Homo sapiens: one gene and its partners. The protein of the gene in region 5 purifies or fractionates together with the protein of the main gene of each other region. This does not show direct contact. Each region holds a gene or a part of one and is shown on either strand. Other genes may lie near its edges. The genes, in order: TSR1, POM121C, USP1, NCBP1, KPNB1, RANGAP1 and KIFC1.

Evidence for each region.
Region 1: the proteins of KPNB1 (region 5) and TSR1 purify together in Homo sapiens (affinity purification with mass spectrometry; 3 studies listed by BioGRID and IntAct, with this or other methods). This does not show direct contact.
Region 2: the proteins of KPNB1 (region 5) and POM121C purify together in Homo sapiens (affinity purification with mass spectrometry; 2 studies listed by BioGRID and IntAct, with this or other methods). This does not show direct contact.
Region 3: the proteins of KPNB1 (region 5) and USP1 purify together in Homo sapiens (affinity purification with western blotting; 2 studies listed by BioGRID and IntAct, with this or other methods). This does not show direct contact.
Region 4: the proteins of KPNB1 (region 5) and NCBP1 purify together in Homo sapiens (co-immunoprecipitation; 2 studies listed by BioGRID and IntAct, with this or other methods). This does not show direct contact.
Region 6: the proteins of KPNB1 (region 5) and RANGAP1 purify together in Homo sapiens (affinity purification with mass spectrometry; 3 studies listed by BioGRID and IntAct, with this or other methods). This does not show direct contact.
Region 7: the proteins of KPNB1 (region 5) and KIFC1 purify together in Homo sapiens (affinity purification with mass spectrometry; 2 studies listed by BioGRID and IntAct, with this or other methods). This does not show direct contact.

Annotation. Positions count from the first base shown.
Region 1 is NC_000017.11:2,329,958-2,333,457, forward strand, and holds part of TSR1 (pre-rRNA-processing protein TSR1 homolog), read right to left. Parts: intron 3,168-3,500; coding exon 3,004-3,167; intron 2,403-3,003; coding exon 2,212-2,402; intron 1,153-2,211; coding exon 990-1,152; intron 669-989; coding exon 558-668; intron 414-557; exon of another isoform or gene 322-413; intron 1-321. UniProt on the Homo sapiens protein: Required during maturation of the 40S ribosomal subunit in the nucleolus.
Region 2 is NC_000007.14:75,437,800-75,441,299, forward strand, and holds part of POM121C (nuclear envelope pore membrane protein POM 121C), read right to left. Parts: intron 3,317-3,500; coding exon 3,155-3,316; intron 1,426-3,154; coding exon 1,345-1,425; intron 1-1,344. UniProt on the Homo sapiens protein: Essential component of the nuclear pore complex (NPC). The repeat-containing domain may be involved in anchoring components of the pore complex to the pore membrane. When overexpressed in cells induces the formation of cytoplasmic annulate lamellae (AL).
Region 3 is NC_000001.11:62,447,049-62,449,676, reverse strand, and holds part of USP1 (ubiquitin carboxyl-terminal hydrolase 1), read right to left. Parts: intron 2,337-2,628; coding exon 2,166-2,336; intron 1,213-2,165; coding exon 1,011-1,212; intron 1-1,010. UniProt on the Homo sapiens protein: Negative regulator of DNA damage repair which specifically deubiquitinates monoubiquitinated FANCD2. Also involved in PCNA-mediated translesion synthesis (TLS) by deubiquitinating monoubiquitinated PCNA.
Region 4 is NC_000009.12:97,668,321-97,671,820, forward strand, and holds part of NCBP1 (nuclear cap-binding protein subunit 1), read left to right. Parts: intron 1-525; coding exon 526-654; intron 655-1,272; coding exon 1,273-1,386; intron 1,387-2,765; coding exon 2,766-2,879; 3' UTR 2,880-3,500. UniProt on the Homo sapiens protein: Component of the cap-binding complex (CBC), which binds cotranscriptionally to the 5'-cap of pre-mRNAs and is involved in various processes such as pre-mRNA splicing, translation regulation, nonsense-mediated mRNA decay, RNA-mediated gene silencing (RNAi) by microRNAs (miRNAs) and mRNA export.
Region 5 is NC_000017.11:47,666,919-47,670,418, forward strand, and holds part of KPNB1 (importin subunit beta-1), read left to right. Parts: intron 1-1,267; coding exon 1,268-1,492; intron 1,493-2,759; coding exon 2,760-2,951; intron 2,952-3,500.
Region 6 is NC_000022.11:41,276,188-41,279,687, forward strand, and holds part of RANGAP1 (ran GTPase-activating protein 1), read right to left. Parts: intron 1,831-3,500; exon of another isoform or gene 1,709-1,830; coding exon of another isoform or gene 1,696-1,708; intron 1-1,695. UniProt on the Homo sapiens protein: GTPase activator for RAN. Converts cytoplasmic GTP-bound RAN to GDP-bound RAN, which is essential for RAN-mediated nuclear import and export. Mediates dissociation of cargo from nuclear export complexes containing XPO1, RAN and RANBP2 after nuclear export.
Region 7 is NC_000006.12:33,401,823-33,405,322, reverse strand, and holds part of KIFC1 (kinesin-like protein KIFC1), read right to left. Parts: intron 2,010-3,500; coding exon 1,956-2,009; intron 1,839-1,955; coding exon 1,788-1,838; intron 1,595-1,787; coding exon 1,194-1,594; intron 472-1,193; coding exon 1-471. UniProt on the Homo sapiens protein: Minus end-directed microtubule-dependent motor required for bipolar spindle formation. May contribute to movement of early endocytic vesicles. Regulates cilium formation and structure.

The DNA of each region.
Region 1 (3,500 bases), about 45 Mb from region 5:
TGCCCAGGCTGGAGTGCAATGGTGCAATCTTGGCTCACCACAACCTCCGCCTACTGGGTTCAAGCAATTCTTCTGCCTCAGCCTCCCAAGTAGCTGGGATTACAGGCATGTGCCACCACGCCTGGCTAATTTTGTATTTTTGGTAGAGACAGGGTTCCTCCATGTTGGTCAGGCTGGTCTCGAACTCCCGACCTCAGGTGATCCACCCACCTTGGCCTCCCAAAAAGTGCTGGGATTACAGGCGTGAGCCGCCGCGCCCAGCCAAACCTTTATTTTTAAGGCTGCCAACCCTTATTCAAAATCTGGTCTGAAAAACATACTTGGAGAAGTCTCAGAACCACACAGAGATTGCATCACTGAGATGCTTCAGACAGGTTCAGACGATATGAATAAAACCATCATTGACTTCTCTATTATTCTCCAATTCCTAATCATAAAGGCAGACTTTTTGCATCCCAATGAGCAAAATTTTAGTCACACATAAACAGAATTTTAGACTGTCAGAAGCAGCTGGAAAGTTTCACAACCCCCCATTTTCCCACAAGACAGCAATTTACCTTCTGTTCATGAGGTAGTAAAGAAAATGCAATCAAGGGTGTTCCTTGCCTGAAGCACTCGACCACTGAGACGGGGACTTCAGAGACATGAAGTGTGACATACCAGCCAACCTGCCACAAGAAAGCAGAAAGCAATCATGGAGTTACCTTTCAAAGTCCCAATAGCGAGGAAGCTTTCTCCAAATATGTTGAGTCTCTCAGATAAAATTTTTAAAGCCAACCCTCATCCTTCAAGATGCTTCATTTACCCAGATCACACTTTTTCATTTAACATAGCTGATACCTCTTTGTTCCCAGTATCATTCTAATCAATGACTCAGGGGCTCCCCTAATCCCCAAATGCAGCATATTTTCATGCCAAGAGAAGGAATAAAGTAGGGAGCATGTTGACAAATGAAAGCAACATACAAGATGAACAAGGAGGATAGATACCTCAGCTCCTTCAACCTCTTTTTCTTCAACCTCTTTAAAGATGCTTTTCCTAGTGTTAGTAAAGTTCTGAAACTGAAATATTCGAGCATAATCTTGAGGAAGGTTTTCCTTAGGATCCCATGGAGATGTCCGGAAGCTCTTAAGGCCTCTGTATTTCTGAAATCTAGAATATTGAAGATTTTTAAAGACATTAAGTCAGATTTATATGGTGCTATATAGACTCAAGTCACTGCTAAAATGGCTAAGGAGCTAGCTGAAAAGAACTCCAATCATCCTCTCTCCAAACAACCCAACAGCTTAAACCAAGACGACACTCCGAACAGCTTATAACAAGTTCTATCGGAACCAAACCCAAGCTTCTCACTGACAAAAAAGATGCTTGGTAATGGCCTGATACAGTTCAGATGTGTCTCCCTGCCCCAATCTCATACTGAAATACAATCCCCAGTGTTGGAGGTGGAGCCTGGTGGGAGGTGACTGCATTAGGGGAGAGGTTTTCTCATGAGTGGGTTAGCACCACCCTCCTTGTTGAGTGAGTTCTCATGAGATCTAGTTGTTTAAAGTGTGTAGCACCTCCTGCCTTGCTCTCGTTACTGCGCTGGCCGTGTGACATGACTTGCTCCCCCTCCACCTTCTGCCATGATTGTAAGTTTCTTGAGGACACCCCCAGAAGCTGAGCAGATGCCAACACCATGCTTCCTGTACAGTCTGCAGGACCATGACCCAATTAAATCTCTTTTCTTTATAAATTATGCAGTCTCTGGTACTTCTTTATAGCCATGCGAGAATGGCCTAATACATAGCCTTACCTCCTAATATCCAAAATTAATTCACTGGCTTTAGTCACTCACCTCCAGAACAGATATAATCATCTACTTCTTCACTCTTCTACTTCTGCTATTCTACCCAAACCCCCTAAAATTTCCAAACATTATATACTTCAATTGAGTACTGGCTCCTTTGGGAAGAAGTATTTGCTAATTAACCTTAGTATTTCCCCTTCATTCAAGTCCTGTAACGTGAGTCTGCACCACAGTCTAGAACTTAATTACATATGACCATTTCCCGTATGTATGTCCTGCCTTCCCATATTAAATGTTAGCTCTTCAGGAGCAGAAAAAATGTGTTTTTCTTCTTTTGCATCACAGTGACACAGCTCTGAGCCAAGTTTTTAAAAACGTATTGACTGAATTTAGATTTGTTGATAGACTTGTTGACTAACCGAATTCGAGCAGCCACATCACGGGGCGTGTCCACTTCATCTGGAAACATCTCTTCCAGTCTTTCTTGTTTATATTTCTCCAACATTTTTGCCTCAGCTTCTTCATCTACTTTCTTATCATACAGATCATCATGCACAGACTCCCCAATAGTCATAGTTTCATATTCTTCCTCTTCTTCACTACTCTCATCCTGTAGAATAGGATTACAGTTTTTTCAGAAGAAATCCACACCTGTCTCTACCCCAAAGGCCAATAAGCTAAGAGTAAAATAATTGTACTAGATCCCTATTCCCAACCAACATAAATTCTAATACAGTCTAAAGTATAAAACAAAAGCCTCATTCCTGGCAACTACAGAGTCATTCCTAAGAAACTAACCATACACGGCCGGGTGCGGTGGCTCACGCCTGTAATCCCAGCACTTTGGGAGGCCAAGGCAGGCGGATCATGAGGTCAGGAGATTGAGACCATCCTGGCTAACACAGTGAAACCCCGTCTCTACTAAAAATACAAAAAAATTAGCCAGGCATGGTGGTGGGCGCCTGTAGTCCCAGCTACTCAGGAGGCTGAGGCAGGAGAATGGCGTGAACCCAGGAGGGAGAGCTTGCAGTGAGCCCAGATCGCACCACTGCACTCCAGCCTGAGCAACAGAGCAAGACTCCGTCTCATAAAAAAAAAATAAAAAAAATAAAAAAAAGAAACTAACCACACACACCCATCAAGATCACACCTGCACTTTGCCTTACATTTGGAGCTAGACACAGAATTGGCCTAAGGCCTCATTTCCTTACCTGAGATTCCTCCTCCATAAAATCCTCATGTTCCATATCATCATATTCATATTCATCTCCTTCCCCACCACTTTGGCTGCCACCATCCAAAATCCATTCAGCTTGGTAACTGGATGTTCCTTTGGGGACCTTCTTTACCACCTTAGAACTTTCCTTCAAGAAATCTGTAAAAGCCCAAACAAATTAAGTAAATTACAGACTTCTTTTCCCTATCCCTCTGGTTATTCTCACCTAGGCAAGGCACCAGATACTGCTGCCAACATGGGAAATTCTGGCAGACACTGTAAATAGAACTACTTCCAAATTTAATTCAGCTGCCTCACAACTAGCAATACTTACACAGCTAAATAAGCCCTGCAATGAATCCAAAGTTGTTTATCTGTTCATGATAAAACATTAACACAAGTAATTTTGAGAAATGGAACAAGACTGTGTATAATGTTTGTTTATTGAAAACATACAGCATTTGAGGGTGAGGAGAGACTTTCAACTATACC
Region 2 (3,500 bases), on a different chromosome or scaffold from region 5:
AATTTTTACTGCTAACAATCTGGCCAAATCTATCTGACAAAGTCAGTAAGAAAAGCCAAATATTTAAAACTTAAATGTATGATTTATAGAATATTCTGGAAAATGCATACCTATCTACAGTGACAGAAGACAGATCAGTGGATGCCTGGGGACACGGGTGGAACTAAAGAGAGGGATTACAGGCATGTGGGAACTTTTGGAGGTCATGGATGTTCATTATCTTAGTGGTGGGATGGTTCCACAGGTGTATGCGTGTCAAAATGTCACATGCTTTAAACAAGTACAGTTATGTCAATTATACCTCAACAAAGCTGTTAAAAAAAAATCAGAGTTAAGAGGAACCCATCATTTTTCTAAACCTCCAATGGAAACAGAAATCTCCTATGCATCTTTCCTGTAGGACAGTCATCCAACCTGTTACAATATAGACAACGCTCTCCTAGAGTGACCCACGTCAACCATGAACCAGTTTATTCTCACAGTGGATTACAATGTATTTCCTCTAACTTTCACCCACGGATCCTATTTGAAGTCAAACAGAGCAAGTTATTTCGCTTCTTTCAAGGGACAGTCCTTTGGTTTTTTGGAGACCATTGTCCTTCCCTCACTTATTTCTTTATTCCTCCTGAGATTTTTCTCCTCTGGGTTAATACTTCCATACCTCCAAAACCCCATCATCCACCACCACCCCTCTGGGCTGTTGCAAATCTCCTTAACATCTTCGTTGCTTCACTGGGAATGAATTTCCGTTTGTGTACATCCTCCCTCGCAGTGCAGTACGCTGATCTGACCACAGTGCTCCACGGACAGTGAGCAGAACTACGGAAGGCAGGAATACCTGCCTCATTCTAGTCTTTCTTCTAACAGCACAGACCAGGAGCACTTTAGCTTTCCTGGTGGCCACATCACACTGCTGACTCAGATGAGGTATCTAAGTTATCCTAAGTCTTTCCACACAGACTTTTGAGCCACTTTCCTTTCCACCCAATTCTTCCTCCAATTTGTTTTTAAACTGACATGTAGAAATTAAACATTTAAGTTTCATACTGTCTTATCCGCTGCACAAACTTTGCAATCCTTCTGTGTATGTGCTTGGTTATTAAATATATTTATAAAACCTCTAGTCTCAGCATATTTCATCCATATTAATGCAAGAACATTAAAAGGAATTAGACAGAAGGCAGTTAATTGTGACAAGTTACTCAGAATATTCCTAATTTCAAAGACATGAACCTGAACTAATTAAGCAATGCAAAAAACAAAGAGGAAAATCTATAGGGCAACAGCTCTGATCAGGCCTTTTTCCAAACAGTTGGTATTTCATCTGGATGGACTCGCACTTACTTAGGCACAAAAGAAGCGGGGACTCCACTGGCCACCAGGGGCTCAAATGCTGAATGTCCACTGCCACTGCTATCATGGCGCCTGCGACAAATCAAAAAAGTCTCAAATGAAATGACATGACTTTGTTTGTCCCTTTAAAGTGTATTCTCACATTTCTGGGACCTTATACTATCTCTATGGAGCACAGATTCCATGCTAGACCAGAAAATGGTTGTTTAAAATCCCTAAGTTTCTGAAAGGTAAATTTTTTTTTTTCAGACAGAGTTTCACTCTTGTTGCCCAGGCTGGAGTGCAATAGCACAATCTTGGCTCACTGCAACAAACCTCTGCCTCCCGGGTTCAACCAATTCTCCTGCCTCAGCCTCCAGCGCAGCTGGGACTACAAGTATGCACCACCACACCTGGCTAATTTCTTAATTTTTTGTACAGGCGAGGGCTCCCTATGTTGCCCAGGCTGGTCTTGAGCTCCTGGGTTCCAGCGATCCTCCCACCTTGGCCTGTCAAAGTGTTAGGAGTACAGGCATGCACCACCATACCCAGCCTTATAAAATGGTGTTTCCCTCAAGAGTCCCATGAGAGCAGAGATTTTGTCTTGTCCACTGCTCTATCCACAGTACTTGCAGTAGGGTCTCATACACAGTGGGTGCTCAGTAAATGCTCACCCACTTCAACTTCTTTTCTTTCTGTAATTAGAAAACTATTCCATTTTCATTAGGTTATTTTACAAACCACATAAGGAATTTTTTTTTTTTTTTTTGAGACAGTCTCGCTCTGTCACCCAGGCTAGAGTGCACTGGCATGGTCTCGGCTCGCTGCAACCTCCGCCTCCTGGGTTCAAGCAGTTCTCCTGTCTCAGCCTCTGGAGTAGCTGGGACTACAGGCACCCACCACCACATCCAGCTAATTTTTGTATTTTTAGTAGAGACGGGGTTTCACCATGTTGGCCAGGCTGGTCTCGAACTCCTGACCTCAGGTGATCCACCCGCCTCGGCCTCTCAAGGTGCTGGGATTATAGGCGTGAGCCACCTTGCCCTGCCAGGAAATTGGTTTTAATCTCATTATTGATAAAACTACCAAACTCTAGTTTTCATTTTTCTTTCCCAAGCATTTCCTTCAGCACAATTAAGACACTAGAACTGGTGGGCCGGGCGCCATGGCTCAAGCCTGTAATCCCAGCACTTTGGGAGGCCAAGGTGGGCGGATCACGAGGTCAGGAGTTTGAGACCATCCTGGCCAATATGGTGAGACCCTGTCTCTACTAAAAATACAAAAAAATTAGCTGGGCATGGTGGCGGGCGCCTGTAGTCCCAGCTACTCGGGGGGCTGAGGCAGGAGAATGGCATGAACCTGGGAGGCTGAGCTTGCAGTGAGCTGAGATCGGGCCACTGCACTCCAGCCTGGGGGACAGAGACAGACTCCAACTCAAAAAAAAAAAAAAAAAGACACTAGAACTGGTGGTTACCCAAATAACTGAACACCACAAAATTCCGACCGGAAGACTTAGAGCCTTCTTTCTTGAAAATAAACTTTTAACACGTTTCTACAGAAGCATGAGGCTAACATGGCTAATAGCTGTCAGCTTATCTCTGCTACTCACAGAAAAGGTAAATTATGACATCGATCTAACCTGTGCCTTGAAATGAACAGCATTAAAACCCTTGTTATTAGGTTCTCTCATGAAAGCCAAAGAAGGAGGCCTATGAAGGCTCACAAACTGGACGTGGCCTCTGTATCTTTACGGGAATGTCTACATCTCATCCCATAGGGGTCCAAGCGGGAAACTGGCTTAGTACTCTCCTGAGCCTGTTACCTTCTTTTATTTTCCTGGCCATCAAGGAATATTTGGTCTTCTTCCTCCACTGTCCTTTTCTTCTTCTTCTCTTTGAGGGCACTCAGTACAGTCTCCTTTGCACATGGGTCTGGGGCATTACTTGATGGTGACGACAGTGTTGAGCTGATTATCTGCTCTGGTCTATAATGAAAGACAAGATTCTAGCCGTAAGATATTTTAATTCCCATGCCACATCAGAAACGGAAATCAGAAGCTAACCAACAGGCCAAAGTATAATTTATACACTCACAACAGTTCCCCTTAGCAAGTAAAGCTACTTTTTCGTTAACGGCAAAAAGTGAAAAACAAACGGTTTTACTAGAAT
Region 3 (2,628 bases), on a different chromosome or scaffold from region 5:
CCCAAAGTGCTAGGATTACAGGTGTGAGCCACCCACGCCCAGCCCATTTTAGTCATTTTTAGTGTGAAGTTTTTCTCTACCAAAATTTGGGAAAGTAAATAAAATAGTATTTTATACTATTAGCAAAGGGAAGGTCCACTGAATAAGGGGCTATATGTTATCTTTTGACATAATCAAGTGTGAGAGAGCTACTGTGAAGCCCTCGTGGTAATTTCAAACAAGCAACTAATGTACAAAGGAGTCACACATACAATGACATTACACATGTCAGAAAAAAACAGACTATCCAAAACAATCAGCATTTTTTTTCAAACTGTTGAAAGACTAGTTTGATTTCCTGGCTTACCTTAAAACTAGGAAGAATTTAGCCTTTCCCGCCCCTTCAAAAAAATCTTGATGTATACAAAATTTGTTCCCTGCTTTAGTCAGTTCTACTGAATTCTGCTACTAACATCTAAGAGGGAATGAATATGAAAAGATGAATAAAGAAACTGGCCGGGCATGGTGGCTCACGCCTGTAATCCCAGCACTTTGTGAGGCTAAGGCAGGTGGATTGCTTGAGTCCAGAAGTTCAAGATCAGACTGGGCAACATGGTGAAATCCTGTCTCTACTAAAAATACAAAAAATTAGCTGGGCATGGTGGCATGCACCTGTAGTCCCAGCTACTCAGAAGGCTGAGGTGGGAGAACCACCTGAGCCTGGGAGGTCAAGACTGCAGTGAGCTGAGGCTGTGCCACTACACTCCAGCCTGGACAACTGGAATGAGACCCTGTTTCAAAAAAAAAAGGAGAAGAAATCATACTTAATAGAATATGTATTCATATCAAAAGGATTTAAGTTGTTTCATTTTTACAGGGAAACTGTTAATAAGAACAAAACTTTACTGAAGCAATCTTTACAATCTACTTCATTTCAGTACTTTATATTCCTACTATTACAGCATTTTGAACAAGACTTATCTTCTACAGCAGCTCATTTTCTTCATATAGTTCTTATTTACAATACTTACTCCAAACCACTAGCAGCAAAGCACTTCAAATGAATAGTTATAACTTCAGGCATTTTGTCAAACAAAAGACTTCGTTCAGCTTCAGTATAATGATGGCAGTTTTCACAGAAATATTTATCTTCTCCTACAATCCTTTCTACTGAAGCAAATTGTGAAATTGCCCATCTCAGGGTCTTCATTTCTGTTTTTGGCTCTGGAGAAACTAAAAAAGAGAATCCTTTCACTCAAATACTTCTCTCAGGCATTCAAAAAATAAACCACAAAGTTTCAGGTTCAAAATTAGCATTTAATTTCAATTGACCGACCCATTCCTAAATAACTAAAGAGATTTTTACTTTCAGAAACTACTTTCATAAGTGCATCCTCAACAGTATACATACCTTTTAAATATATTTGATCGGCCAAAAAATATGATAGACAGCAAAAACAAAATAAGCCTAGTCTGTTTACATTTAATTGCCAACTTTCAATATGTGATAGGTAAACCTGTCTCATGATTATTTCCTATGGTATTTCCATATTTTGTGGTATGCTCTAGACACAACAGTGGCTCAATTATTGTGTTAAAAACAACCTCAGTAGGCCAGGCGCGGTGGCTCACGCCTGTAATCCCAGCACTTTGGGAGGCCAAGGCGGGCGGATCACGAGGTCAGGAGATTGAGACCATCCTGGCTAACATGGTGAAACCCCGTCTCTACTAAAAATACAAAAAATTAGCCGGGCGTGGTGGTGGGCACCTGCAGTCCCAGCTACTCAGGAGGCTGAGGCAGGAGAATGGCATGAACCCAGAAGGCGGAGCTTGCAGTGAGCCGAGATCACGCCACTGCACTCCAGCCTGGGCAACCGAGCAAGACTCCATCTCAAAAAAATTAAAAAAAACCCTCAGTAGCTCTGAAAGACTCAGGTTCCCAAAAGTACACTTATTAAAGCATTTCAGTTTTCCATTCTAACACACTCTACATCAAAATCAAGATGTCACAATTTCCCAAATGCTAACCATTTATAAGTGAAGCCAGATAAGCAGAAAGGTTACATTAGACACTAAAAGCTAGCTTTTTTCCCCTCCCTAATTACACCAGCTACTATTAAACTTTGTGTTGTTAAAGAATTATAAATATTCCATCATGGTCCACACAAGACTCCAATTTTGCTTACTTTCAGAACTCTCCTCTACTTTGGAAAGCTCATCTTCTTGTACTGGCACACTGATGTCTTGAAAATCTTCTCTTCTTTCTGTTAAACTTTCACATTCCAAGCAACGCGTCCTTAATACCAGCTGACCTTGAAATAATTTCTCCACTAGCTCAAAACCAATTTGTTCTTCACCTAAAATGAAAATAGGAAAATGTAAGTCTATACAGATTAGTTTCTCATTATAGTCCAAATAACCAATTTTCCATTTAAATAAAGTATATCATGAATAACAGTTCCATTTTCATAGATCAGCTTATTAGCATTATTAGCTTATTAGAGGTACCCTATTAATGAAATTTAAGGTCCCTGTAAAGATAAAACTGACTATGAAATTACTGTCTTTAAAAGAAGTCAGTTGTAGGCCGGGCACAGTGGCTTAAGCCTGTAATCCCAAGACTTTGGGAGGCTGAGGCGGGCAGATCAC
Region 4 (3,500 bases), on a different chromosome or scaffold from region 5:
GTGAGCTGGGGGCAGGGATTATTAAAGCTTTACAGGAGTATATTGAGCCCATCATTGCCAGCAGAAAGTCTTAAACAGCCCACTTTGAATTATTATATGTCGGCTGGAGCCATTTCTAAATTATAACAAGAATGAGCAGCCTTGGCCCATAGGACTTGCCCAGTTTTTCTGTATGGCCCATTAGCAGATGAATGATTAGCAAGCTGTCTCCCTGTTGTTACTGCTCAAATGGTCAAATAGTGATAAATTGTAGCCAAGTCCCCCCATGTTGTTACCAAGACAAGTGCCACTAAATTTCCCTGGCCTAGATAAGAACCCATGGAATTTCTGAATGAGAAGACAGTGTCTCTGAACCACAACAGGACTTTGAGGTATATATGTGTGGGTGGCGGGGTGGGGGGGTACTTTCACTATAGAATATAAGTCTTAACATTTGGCCAGACACAGTAAAATGCTTCCCCTGGAGGAGATTTAACACACTGGAATCTAAATGGTATTTTCCTTTTGTTCATTTGCCTTCTATAGCGAAGTGATGATGACGACAGAAGCAGTGACAGGAAAGACGGGGTTCTTGAGGAACAAATAGAACGACTTCAGGAAAAAGTGGAATCTGCTCAGAGTGAACAAAAGAATCTTTTCCTCGTTATATTTCAGGTATCTTGGCTTGGGACATTTATACATAAAAGGAAACAATACATTTCTTTAGTTTTAGTTTTTAAAAATGTTATTTTTCATTGTAAAAGGAATACACATTCATTTATAGAAGAGATTAAAAATACAAAAATTTAGGAAGGAAATAAAAGTTCACTACTCAGAGGCAACCATGTATGTCTGAGTTTCTCTGCTGTTTACTTAGTATTCTCGCATGAGCATTTCTCCATGCTTGAAAAAAAATTGTGGGTTGCTTTTTTTATATATGTCTCGTTTAATTATTCCTCATTGCTGATCATTTTCCTTCCATGAACATTTTAATGCATAGATTCCTGTTAAAATTTCTGATTACTTCGTTAGAATAGATTCCAGGAAGTAATATTACTAGGATAAGTAATTTAAGACATTAAAGGTCTTTATGTATTGCCAGGAAGAATGTACCAACTCATGTTATTACCAGTCTGCCCTTCTAGGTTGACTTCATGAATAATGGAAGCTAGGCACACACACCACAAAGACAGGGTGGAACAGGCAATACTTTGGGGTTTCTTTGTCATGAATTTTTTTCCAAAGTATAAGATTCTGTCTGTAGTACTACCTTAACTTCTTCTCCCTTTCCAGCGGTTTATCATGATCTTGACCGAGCACCTAGTACGATGCGAAACTGATGGGACCAGTGTATTAACACCATGGTATAAGAACTGTATAGAGAGGCTGCAGCAGATCTTCCTACAGGTATGTGGGGAACTTCGATTAGGTAATAACACTATTCTCAGCCACAAAGATTTTTCATTAAAAAAAATCCTTGTCAAATTTGTTAGGAGGTTATATAGTACCTGTTAGACCCTTTAGTTCATGTCCATTTGCTGCTACCATTGCTCATCAGAATATTTAGGCTTAAACTGATTCTGTACCACTTAGATTCCTAATTGCCACCCCCCCAACAACCCCCCGCCCCACCTTTTTTTTGAGATGGCATCTCACTCTGTTGCCCAGGCTGGAGTTCAGTGACACGATCTCAGCTCACTGCAACCTCCACCTCCTAGGTTTAAGCAATTCTTCTGCCTCAGCCTCCCATATTGCTGGGATTACAGGCACCCGTCACTACTCCTGCCTGATTTTTGTATTTTTAGTAGGGACAGAGTTTCACCATGTTGGCCAGGCTAGTCTCAAACTCCTGACCTCAGGAGGCCTCCGCCTCCCAAAGTGCTGCTGGGATTATAGGCGTGAGCCACGGTGCCCAGTCTCCTAATTGTCATTTTCTATGCTGGGGATCCTAGCTGTAATATAAAATGTAGAGGACAAAAATATCAAGAGGACAGTAATTGGATTTATAAGTCCCTAAAAAGCCAGTGTTATCCAATGTGCAGGTGGTAAACTGTCCACAGAATCAAGGTAAGCTCCCTGGGGTCTCTCTGCAAAAGCAAAATGCCGGCACCTATTCTCACCTAGATTTAAGTTAAAGGTATATAGGAGAGTGGAGCTAATTCATTGTATCTTCGGACACTACTCCCCTAAATCTTCATTTGTTCATTCTAGAAGAATGATTAATGTAGAAGTCACTCTAAGTTCAATTCTTTGAGCCTCCAAATAGGAATTCCCTCTGATTTTATAGTTACTGCCAGTTTTAAAAGCTTTAACAGTCTCTAGTCCTATAAGAATCTCTGAGAGTATTCATGGCTTATAGAGGAACACATAGACAAGAGTATTTCGTTTTCTGACTGTTTATCTTCCTGTCAGTCCGTCTGGCTGCTTTTTAAAAAGTTACAATGTATTATGCCCTGACTGGGGAGAGAGCTAGCTGAGCCTAGTCCGTAATAGTACTAGGAGCAAGCAGGCACTGCTGCCACTGCCTTGAATCATGAATTCTGTTTACATAGAAGTTGGTAAGAACTGGATTTTTTAAAAAGCTATTGAGCATCCATTTTTTTCATTTCCCTTTTTATTTTTTTAATGTTGGGGATTTTCAGGGGTCCATTGTTCCTATCAGCACTTTTTTTTCCCCTTCCTCTTTTCATCATTCTGCAGCATGGGTGGGCTGCTGAAGGAAATGTTCCACAAGATTGCTTATATGCTTTTTCCTGACCTAACTACCCCCTTTTGTGTGTCCACAGCATCACCAAATAATCCAGCAGTACATGGTGACCCTGGAGAACCTTCTCTTCACTGCTGAATTAGACCCTCATATCTTGGCCGTGTTCCAGCAGTTCTGTGCCCTGCAGGCCTAAGGGTCATTTTTTCCTCATGTCAAGGTTTTTTTTGATATCTTAAAATAATTTGTCTTATTTTTTGATGGTTTGAATGCTTGCTTTCTTGTAGTATCCTTTCACTTCTTAAAGGAAACAAAGGGGAAGAGGACAGTGAATGAACATGGCATTACTTTTAATTGCCCTGAAAAGCAAATACTTCCTAACGGCAGTAATGTGACTATGACCATGATATATTATATATGTGACAGATACAAATTCTCTGTGATCAGTTTGTTATTTTTTTTCTCCTTAAGGCACAAAATAATTGGTTTGAGGTATGTGAAACACTAGAGGTCAACCTTACATAGTATATAGAACTGATGGGTTTACCCAGCTACCCAGTAGCATAACTTTTCACAGCTCGGGGATGAATTAACATGGCTGAAATAAAACTAAAAGTATGGTTTTTAAACTTTGGCATTTCATGATTTATCATCTCACTCTACTCTAAAACTGGTGGTTTCTTACTGAAGGTGTTCTCCATTTGAAATTTTATCTTCAAAGTATTTTTAAGTAGTATCTTTAAGACATGACTTGTTAGTAATAAAAGTGTTACTAGTTGGAAGAGTAGCTCTCAAATTTGTCTTAATGTAAATCACC
Region 5 (3,500 bases):
CTTTCTTATATTTTTATTGTGCTTTTCCTATTTGAGAACAAATTATTCTTTGTGTGATTTTCTGAAACTGCATAGGCAACCTGCCTTAAGTTTACTATGTGGTGTGAATGGCCACAATTAGGAAGCTATACCTTGGATTCTAACTTAAGAGGAGATATTAGTGGAATCTTTTCTTTTTTGAACTTTTGTGGTTTTGGTTTTTGGTTTTTTGGGGTGGCGTTGGGGGGTACAGAGTCTTGCTCTATCACCCAGGCTGGAGTGCAGTGGGGCGGTCTTGGCTCACTACAACCTTCATCTCCCTGGTTCATGTGATTCTCTTGCCTCAGCCTCCCGAGTAGCTGGGATTAACAGGTGTGTGCCACTATACCCAGCTAGTCTTTGTATTTTTAGTAGAAACGAGGTTTCACCATGTTTACCAGGCTGGTCTCGAAGTCCTGACCTCAAGTGATCTGCCTGCCTTGGCCTCCTAAAGTGCTGGGATTACAGGCATGAGCCACTGCACTGCACCTTGCCTCTTTTTTGAACTTTTGATTGAATCATGTCTTCTTCCCAGTCATGAAACTCCCTTACTTTCCTGGTCTTTTATTCCATAGGTTAATTTTTGTTGATTTTGGACTTTATTTATTATTATTTTTAATACTATGTTTTTTTTTTTTTCTGACAGAGTCTCACTCTGTTACACAGGCTGGAGCACAGTGGCACAATCTCGGCTCACTGCAACCTCCGCCTTCCAGGTTCAAGCAATTCTCCTGCCTTGGCCTCCTGAGTAGCTGGGACTACAGGCACGTGCCACCACACCCAGCTAATTTTTGTATTTTTAGTAGAGATGGGGTTTCACCATGTTGACCAGGCTGGTCTCAAACTCCTGACCTCAGGTGATCCACCCACCTTAGCCTCCCAAAGTGCTGGGATTACAGGCATGAGCCACCGCGCCTGGCCGATTTTGGACTTTACATAACTGGAATCATACAGCATACATTCTAGTTCTGTATTTTGTTCTAAATGTTTGGAATTCATTCTTTTTGGATGTAGTTGAAATTTTTTCATTCTTGTTGTGTAGTACTAAATGGAATCTTCTTCCATCTGAATCTTGTTTAACAAAGGCTATGCTGTGATGAATGTTTGTGGAAGAGACAAAATATAAAGGTCTTATATTTTATTTCCCTGGAGTTTAAGTTCTAAAGACATTCAAGAGTAGTCAGAGGACCTTTAGAGTTAAAATGATTCTTTGGACAAAATCTTAACTAGTGCCATATTCTTTCACCAGGACGAAAATGATGATGACGATGACTGGAACCCCTGCAAAGCAGCAGGGGTGTGCCTCATGCTTCTGGCCACCTGCTGTGAAGATGACATTGTCCCACATGTCCTCCCCTTCATTAAAGAACACATCAAGAACCCAGATTGGCGGTACCGGGATGCAGCAGTGATGGCTTTTGGTTGTATCTTGGAAGGACCAGAGCCCAGTCAGCTCAAACCACTAGTTATACAGGTGAAACTGAGGGATTTTTGGAGTAGAAAGTAGGATATTTATTGTTTAAACTTAAAGCATATCTTTATTTTTCAAAACAAAACTGTAAATTGTCATCTACAAAGATTATCTCTAGATACTTGTTTACTTTTAATGAGGGTAAAATATATTTCTTAGGTTTTTAATTACATAAGTCAGCATGATCCAGAGACATGTGAAAGAAGCCAAAAGAGAAAAGTCATCTTTAATTTCATTGCCCAGAAATACCACTCTTAACTCTGTATTTATCCTTGAAGCTTTTTCCTATGTGCATGTGTGTGCAACAGGCTCTTCCTGTGCAGATTGTTTTATAACTTGTTTCTTCATTTAATACTATGTTGTAAACATTTCCCAATAATTTTTTTTTGCACCTAGCACTGATTCCCCATAATTTTTAATAATGGCATTATTATTCTATTCTTTGGACAAAATGTCCTTTATGTAATGAAAATGTTCTTATGGAAATGTTGTGCTTGTTTTGCTATTACAAGTCGTGCCATTGCACTCCAGCCTGGGCAACGAGCGAAACTCTATCTCAAAAAAAAAAAAAAGAGTTTGTTATAGTTGAGTTTAGTGCTTAAAGAATTCAGTCTTCAGTCTTTCTGGATATAGCCAGATGCCATCATAGCTGCATCCTGAGAATTCTGAGTATCTGAGTAATTCTTTTTTTTTTTGAGGTAGGGAGGCGGGGGGATGGAGTCTTACTCTGTCACCCATGCTGGAGTGCTGAAGTGCAGTGGTGCAATCTAGGCTCACTGCAACCTCCAGCTCCCCAGCTTAAGCAATTCTCGTGCCTCAGCCCCCTGAGTAGGTGGGACTATGTGCCACCATGCCCAGCTAATTTTTGTATTCTTAGTAGAGAGACCGGGTTTCATCATGTTGGTCAGGCTGGTCTTGAACTCCTGACCTCAAGCAACTCCTGACCTCAAGTGATCTGCCTGCCTCAGCCTCCCAGAGTGCTGGGATTACAGGCATGAGCCATCATCATGCCCGGCCTCTATCTGAGTAATTTATTGCAGACTACTAAAAGCATTTACACCAAATTCTTAATATAAAACTCTAAACTGGAGTTTTGAAAGATATTTTCAAATATTTTGAAAGATGTTTCACACCATGTCCTGTAAAATTACAGAAGTATCTTGGTGACTTTTTTGAGTTAAGCCATCCATCAGTATTTCTTTCTCTGGGGTAGTAGTTAACATGAATTTTAATCTTTGTTTTGCTTTGCTAATAACTGTTATATTTTCAGGCTATGCCCACCCTAATAGAATTAATGAAAGACCCCAGTGTAGTTGTTCGAGATACAGCTGCATGGACTGTAGGCAGAATTTGTGAGCTGCTTCCTGAAGCTGCCATCAATGATGTCTACTTGGCTCCCCTGCTACAGTGTCTGATTGAGGGTCTCAGTGCTGAACCCAGAGTGGCTTCAAATGTGTGCTGGGTAAGGGATTTTCTTGCTGGTGAGAAAAGGAGCTTGCCTGCGCCACTGGCAAGAAAGTAGAAGGTGTGGGAGAGAAATCAATCTGCCTCACTGGAATGCTTTTTCTGATTTTCTTTCTAATTTATTCAATTAAAATGTGGGGGAGATTCCAACTGCAAGAGCCAGTGGGAACACTTGACTTATGGTTACTGGTTCCTGAACCACTTAGAACAGTCATGGTAACCCAGTGGGGAAACTATCTGGACTTGGGTTGCTTTCTTGAATTGCTTGGGGACAAGAAGTTTTGATTAAGGTAGAGAGTTTTTGGCTGTAAGAAGTATCATTGCTGAGTAGAGGGCAAGAGGGAAGGAAGGTAGGCAGCCTAAATGCTGAGTCAGTATAGGCTAATGTAATTGGTTAAGGGGAGGAAGTTCAAATAAGGAAGGAATGGGGCTAAACGTCTTTCTGTGAAAGGAAACAGAAATGAAATGGCAGGTATGGTTGAAAGTACTCTGCTGCTTAGAGAGTTGTCAGATTATCAAACAGGATGATGAGAGATGTCAGATTATC
Region 6 (3,500 bases), on a different chromosome or scaffold from region 5:
ACAAGGTCTAGAAACATAGAAACCAAATGCTATAGCAGTTCTCTCTAGCTGGTAGGATAATGGGTGATTGTGTGTTTTTAACTATTTGAAGTAAAATGTTCTCAATATATCAGGTTATATAGCAGCTTTTAAAAGATCTATAATATAATCCCAATTAAAAACAAAATGGGCTGGGAGTAGTGGCTCACACCTGTAATCCCAGCACTTTGGGAGGCTGAGGCCTGAGGATCACCTGAGGTCAAGAGTTTGAGACCAGCCTGTCCAATATGATGAAACCCTGTCTCTAACTAAAAATACAAAAATTAGCCGGGTGTGGTGGTGGATGCCTGTAATCCCAGCTATTAGGGAGGCTGAGACAGGAGAATTGCTTGAACCTGGGAGGCAGAGGTTGCAGTGAGCCGAGATCGTGGCATTGCACTAATCCCTGGGCAACAAGAGCGAAACTCCGTTTCAAAAAACAAACAAAACAAAATGAACTCAGCTATGTTCAGGAAAAAAAAAAAGACTAGGCTGGGCGCGGTGGCTCACGCCTGTAATCCCAGCACTTTGGGAGGCCAAGGCGGGCGGATCGTGAGGTCAGGAGTTCAGGAGTTCAAGAACAGCCTGGCCAACATGGTAAACCCCGTCTCTACTAAAAATACAAAAATTAGTTGGGCATGGTAGCGCATGCCTGTAATCCCAGCTGCTCGGAAGGCTGAGGCATAATTGCTTGAACTGGGACCCAGGAGGCGGAGGTAGCAGTGAGCGAGATCTTGCCACTGCACTCCAGCCTGGGCTACAGAGCGAGACTGTTTCTCAGAAAAAAAAAAAAAAAGACTGTGTTAGAAATAAAATGCCCTGAAAGTAATAGTAGTTATATCCCTGGGGTTATATGAAAGTGAGGATTTTTTTTTTTTTTTTTTTTTTTTGAGACGGAGTCTCGCTCTGTTGCCCAGGCTGGAGTGCAGTGGCGGGATCTCGGCTCACTGCAAGCTCCGCCTCCCGGGTTCACGCCATTCTCCTGCCTCAGCCTCCCAAGTAGCTGGGACTACAGGCGCCCGCCACTACGCCCGGCTAATTTTTTGTAGTTTTTAGTAGAGACGGGGTTTCACCGTTTTAGCCAGGATGGTCTCGATCTCCTGACCTCGTGATCCGCCCGCCTCGGCCTCCCAAACTGCTGGGATTACAGGCGTGAGCCACCGCGCCCGGCCGAAAGTGAGGATATATTTTTTCCCTGTTCTTTGAATGTTTCTGTATTCTATAATAAACCTGCATTAATTGTATAATCTGAACAAAACCAAAACTTACATGAAACAAAAAGTTGAGTCTGGCTGGTACAGGATGGAGTAGGGTGACATGTGGGAGGGAAGAGATAGAGATGGGTATGGGAGATAAAGTTTGAACTTGACCTTCTGGTCAAGAAGGGTCTTGAGAAAGGACTTATAACCTAGCAGGGGCTCCCTAAGAAGTTGTCCAAGGTGGGTCCAAGTTTCCCTGGTTGGGCCAGAACCCAAGGATGGCTCACTGATGCGGGTACCTTCACTTCCAGATGCCAGGGGATTCAGGGTTGGTCAGTGCCAGCCAAGCCTTGGCAAGGGATGAAAAGACTTCCTGGGTGCTCTTAAAGTAAAAGTGAGACCTCTCCCTGCCTTACTTCCCAGAGCCTTTTCACTTGTTTTCATAGAGTATATTCACATTTTGCCTTCACTTAGTTACCTGGGTATATCATTCCTATTCCAGATTTGCTGCTTCTTAGGAGCTGGGTAAGCTGGGCACCCCTGGGGACTTACAAAATGGGAGACACCACATTCAGCCTGTGCTGGGAGAGTAAAGAAGTTAACTGGATGGATTTCAGAGCCAGCCAAACTTGAGTTTTTTTTTTTTTTTTTTGAGATAGTCTCGTTCTGTCACCGAGGCTGGAGTACAGTGGTGCCATCTCGGCTCACTGCAACCTCCGCCTCCCGGGTTCAAGCGATTCTCCTGCCTCAGCCTCCGGAGAGTAGCTGGGATTACAGGTGTCCACCACCACGCCCGGCTAATTTTTGTATTTGTAGTAAAGACAGGGTTTCTCCATGTTGGCCAGGCTGGTCTGGAATTCCTGACCTCAGGTGATCTGCCCACCTCGGCCTCCCAAAGTGCTGGGATTACAGGCGTGAGCCACCGCACCTGGCCCAAACTTGAGTTCTAATCCCAGCTCTACTCATTAAAGCTGTGCCCTTAGGCATGTCATACCACCTCCCTAAACCTCAGTTTTCCAATCTGCAAAATGGAAATGCAATCTATCTCAAAGGATTTTGTGAAGATAAACTGAGATACTATTTATCTGGCACTTAATACCCTTATCTGACACGGTGTTCAATAAATGGCATTTGCCATCAAATCTCTGTTTCCTAAACGGAGCTCAATGTCTAATTAGAAGCACAGGAATAGGGATTTCACTGAACCTCTGTGAAAATCCTAGCTCTGCTATTTATCAAATGTGTGACCTTGGTCAAGTTACTTAAAGTCTCCTAAATTCCTTTTTCTCATTTATAAAACAGCAACATTCCAATCTATCTCCCACAAGGGTGACGCAAGCATCAAAAGTGATAAACGAGGTCAAAGTGGGCGGATCACCTGAGGTCAAGAATTCAAAACCAGCCTGGCCAACATGGCAAAACCCCGTCTCTACTAAAAATACAAAAATAAGGGGCCGGGCACGGTGGCTCACGCCTGTAATCCCAACACTTTGGGAGGCCGAGGTGAGAGGATCATGAGGTCAGGAGATCGAGACCATCTTGGCTAACTAACACGGTGAAACCCCGTCTCTACTAAAAATACAAAAAAATTAGCCGGGCGTGGTGGCGGGCGCCTGTAGTCCCAGCTACTCAGGAGGATGAGGTGGGAGAATGACATGAACCCAGGAGGCGGAGCCTGCAGTGAGCCAACATCATGCCAGTGCACTCCAGCCTGGGTAACAGAGCGAGACTCCGTCTCAAAAAAAATAATAATAATAAAAATACAAACACAAAAATAGGCTGAAGGCCAGACACAGTGGCTCACGCCTGTTATCCCAGTACTTTGGGGGCTGAGGCGGGCGAATCACCTGAGGTCAGGAGTTCTAGACCAGCCTGTCCAACATGGTAAAACCCCATCCCTACTAAAATACAAAAAATTAGCGGAGCATGGTGGTGGGTGCTTATAGTCCTAGCTACTCAGGAGGCTGAGGCAGGAGAATGGCGTGAACCAGGGAGGCAGAGCTTACAGTGAGCCGAGATTGCACCACTGCACTCCAGCCTGGGTGACAGAGCACGACTCCATCTCAAAAAAAAAACAAAAAGAAAAGAAAATTAGCTGGGCATGGTTGTACACACCTGTAGTCCCAGCTACCCAGGAGGCTGAGGCATGAGAATTGCCTGAACCCAGGCAGAGGTTAAAGTGAGCTGAGATTGCACCACCACACTCCAGCCTGGGCAACAGAGCAAGACTATGTCTCAAAAAAAAAAATTAGCCAGGCGTGATGGTGTGAGCCTGCAGTCCCA
Region 7 (3,500 bases), on a different chromosome or scaffold from region 5:
ATAGGCAAAGATGCATACTGGATAGCCATCCAGGGCTGACTGGACAAGCATGGCAATCTCTTCAAACACTTCATCCTGTCCACTTCCTGGTGGGAATACCCGGTCAAAGGAAAAATCATGGCGAGTTGGGGGAGCTGGTGCCCCACTCAGGGTCCCACGCCGCTCGTCAGACCGGGAGAGGCTAAGGCGGGTTGGAGGATCAGAGGGCCCACCAGGGCCAGAGGGAAACAGGAGGAGGCCAGGGGGTGGAGTGGGCTCCCCCGGCAGGACAGGGCGGACCCGGCAGAATACACGGATGTTGCCCTTGAGTTCCTGCAGCTGGTTGTGCAGTCGCCGGCGCTCCATTTCTAGCCCATGAAGACGTTCTTCCCGCTCAGTCAGTAAGGCTGCCTGGGCCACAGTCTCCTGCCGCAGAGATGCCACCTCTGCTTGGCTGCTTGACAGGGCTGCTTCTGATGTCTGCAGCCTCCTCTGCCCAGAAGAGAACACAACATACACAGAGGGTAAGATGCAACCAAGAAGAAGAACAAACTGTGGGGCGTATGGAGTGGGTGGAAGTGAGGTCCCTGCTCAAAAGGACCTCAAAGTCTGGTAAACAAAGAAAGATGAGAAAATAAGGAATCATGGTACTAAGACAGGGAGTGCTATGGGTATGTCCAAGCACAAAGAGGAGCACAAGGAAGATGATATCTAGGGTGACACCCAGAAGTACAGGAGTGAACCAAGGAAGGATGTAGTATACAAAGAACATTCCAGAAAGAGGGAAGCACATATGCAGAATGCCCAGAAGTGAAAGTTGAGTCATTTAAGAGACTGCAAATAACTTAATCTAGTTGGTGCTCACCAGGAAGGAGTCAAGTGGACATGGGAGGAGGGAAAGAGAGTACCACAGGAATTTGTGATCAGGATGGGAACCCAAAGAAAGAGGGATGGAGGACTAAGAAAGACACAGATCTAAATGAGAGCTTTGCAAACAGTCAAGGGTAGGAAGAAGCGTGGCAGAAAGCAAGACAGTCAGGAGTGGGCTGGGGTGCAGACAGGTCAAGAGAGAGGTATCTTCAGCAGCACCTATACTGCTAAAGATAGGTGCTCAGGAGTTCTCAGCCCAGACTTGAGGGGTACCTGGAAGGGAGGGGAGGCATGACCTCTGCCAGGAAAGCGGGGCTGACATCTGGTGAAAATCTGGCCCTTACCTCCTTCTCCTCTAGTTGGGACATCAGTCCCCTCCGTTCTTCCTGCAATTCCACCTGTTTTTTCTGAAGCTCTTGCACCAAGCCCTCCTGCGTGCTCAGCCGCTCTTCCAGCTCCAGGACACAAGCACGCAAGTTCTTCAGCTCCTGTTGGCCCTGCTCAGCCTGGGCCTGTACCTTGGCTAAATGCCCCTCCAGTGTTGTGCGCTCTGTCCCCAGGGCCTTGACCTGCTGCTGGGCATCTCTGAGCTGGTCCTGAAGCTGCTGGTTCTCTTGGTCCAACGTTTGAGTCCTCTCACGGCACCGTTTTAGTTCTGCATTTAGGTCACATAACTGACCCTTTAAGTCCCAGGCTGGACGTTTGCTGGGTTTCTTCCCTCCTGCCATGGGAGGAACACCTGATGCTAAGATGAACACAGAAAGGACAAAGGTCAGTGAAGTCTAGGCTCTCTATCCCTCCTCCCTTCTAGCCTTTATGGGATCCACACCTGATGCTACATCTCCTTCCCCTTAGAGACCAAATGGATTTTTCTGGTCACTCACCATCTTCTCTTCCCTATCCCAGCCTCTCACCCAGTGGTTATGTTTGTCACTTACTGCCAGACTTCTGGACAGGAACAGCAGGAACTGGCTTCTGGTTCTTCAACCCTACAGAATTGAGGAGGTGACTTAGGAATTACAGGACCAGTGTCCCTCCACCTCCATCATTCTCCCTTTACACATACCCCAAATCCCTTCTCAGACCCAGCTCTTGAGCACAGTTACCTGTGGCAATAGCTGTGGAACACCGGGGTCCTGTCTTCTTGGAAACTTTTTGAGCTGCCCAGGAGATGGGAGAGAGCAAAGGTAGAATGATCATTCTTAAGATGGCATGTACACTTGCTAGGACAGGGGCAGAAGAAGTGCTTTTCTCAGAATTAGAAATAGGATAACTTCCTTCCCTTATCCCTAAGTCTGGCCAGCTCCTAATGATACCTCCCCTAGAACCAGAAATTACAGTCATCCCTCAGTATCCAAAAGGGGTTGATTCCAGCACCCCCCAAGAATACCAAAATCCAAGGATGCCCAAGTCCCTTACATAAATAGGTATATAGTATTAAATATAGTCTATGCACACGCTCCCATATACTTTATTTATTGATTGACTGAGACAGAGTTTCACTTGTTGTCCAGGCTGAAGTGCAATGGCATGATCTCAGCTCACAGCAAACTCTACCTCCAGGGTTCAAGCGATTCTCCCGCCTCAGCCTCCCGAGTAGCTGGGATTATAGGTATGCGCCACCACGCCCAACTAATTTTGTATTTTTAGTAAAGACGGGGTTTCACCATGTTGATTAGGCTGGCCTCAAACTCCTGACCTCTGGTGATCTGCCTGCCTTGGCCTCCATTTTGTTTTTTTTTTGAGATGGAGTTGCACTCTTCTCACCCAGGCTGGAATGCAATGGCGCGATCTCAGCTCACTACAACCTCCACCTCCAGGGTTCAAGCAATTCTTCTGCCTCAGCCTCCTGAGTAGCTGGGATTACAGGCAAGCGCCACCACGCCTGGCTAATTTTTTTTTTTTTGTATTTTTAGTAGAGACAGGTTTTCAGCATGTTGGCCAGGCTGGTCTCAAACTCCTGACCTCAGGTGATCTGCCTGCCTCAGCCTCCCAAAGTGCTGGGATTACAGGCGTGAGCCACCACATCCAGCCGCATATACTTTAAATCATCTTTAGATTACTTATAATATCTAACACAATGTAAATGCTATGTTAATACAGTCATGTGCCCATAATGACATTTCGGTCAATGACAGACTGCATATACAACAGTAGCCCCGTAACATTATAATGGAGCTAAAAATTCCTATTGCCTAGTGACATTATAGCCATGGTAATGTCATAGCATTCCTCACCTGTTTGTGGTGATTCTGATATAAACGAACCTAATGCACTGCCAGTTGTATAAAAGTATAACACATATAATTACATATAGTACATAATACCTAATAATGATAATGACTATGTTACTAGTTTATATATTTACCGTACTGTACTTTTTATTGTTATTTTAGGGTATACTCCTTCTATTTGCAAAAACAGTTAACTATAAAACAGCCTCAGGCATGTCATTCAAAAGGCATTCCAGGCCAGGCACTGTGGCTCACGCCTGTAATCCCAGCACTTTGGGAGGCCGAGGTGGGCAGATCAAGGGGTCAGGAGATTGAGACCATCCTGGCTAACACGGTGAAACCCCGTCTCTCCTAAAAATACAAAAACAAAATTAACCAGGCGTGGTGGCGGGCACCTGTAGTCCCAGCTACTCCGGA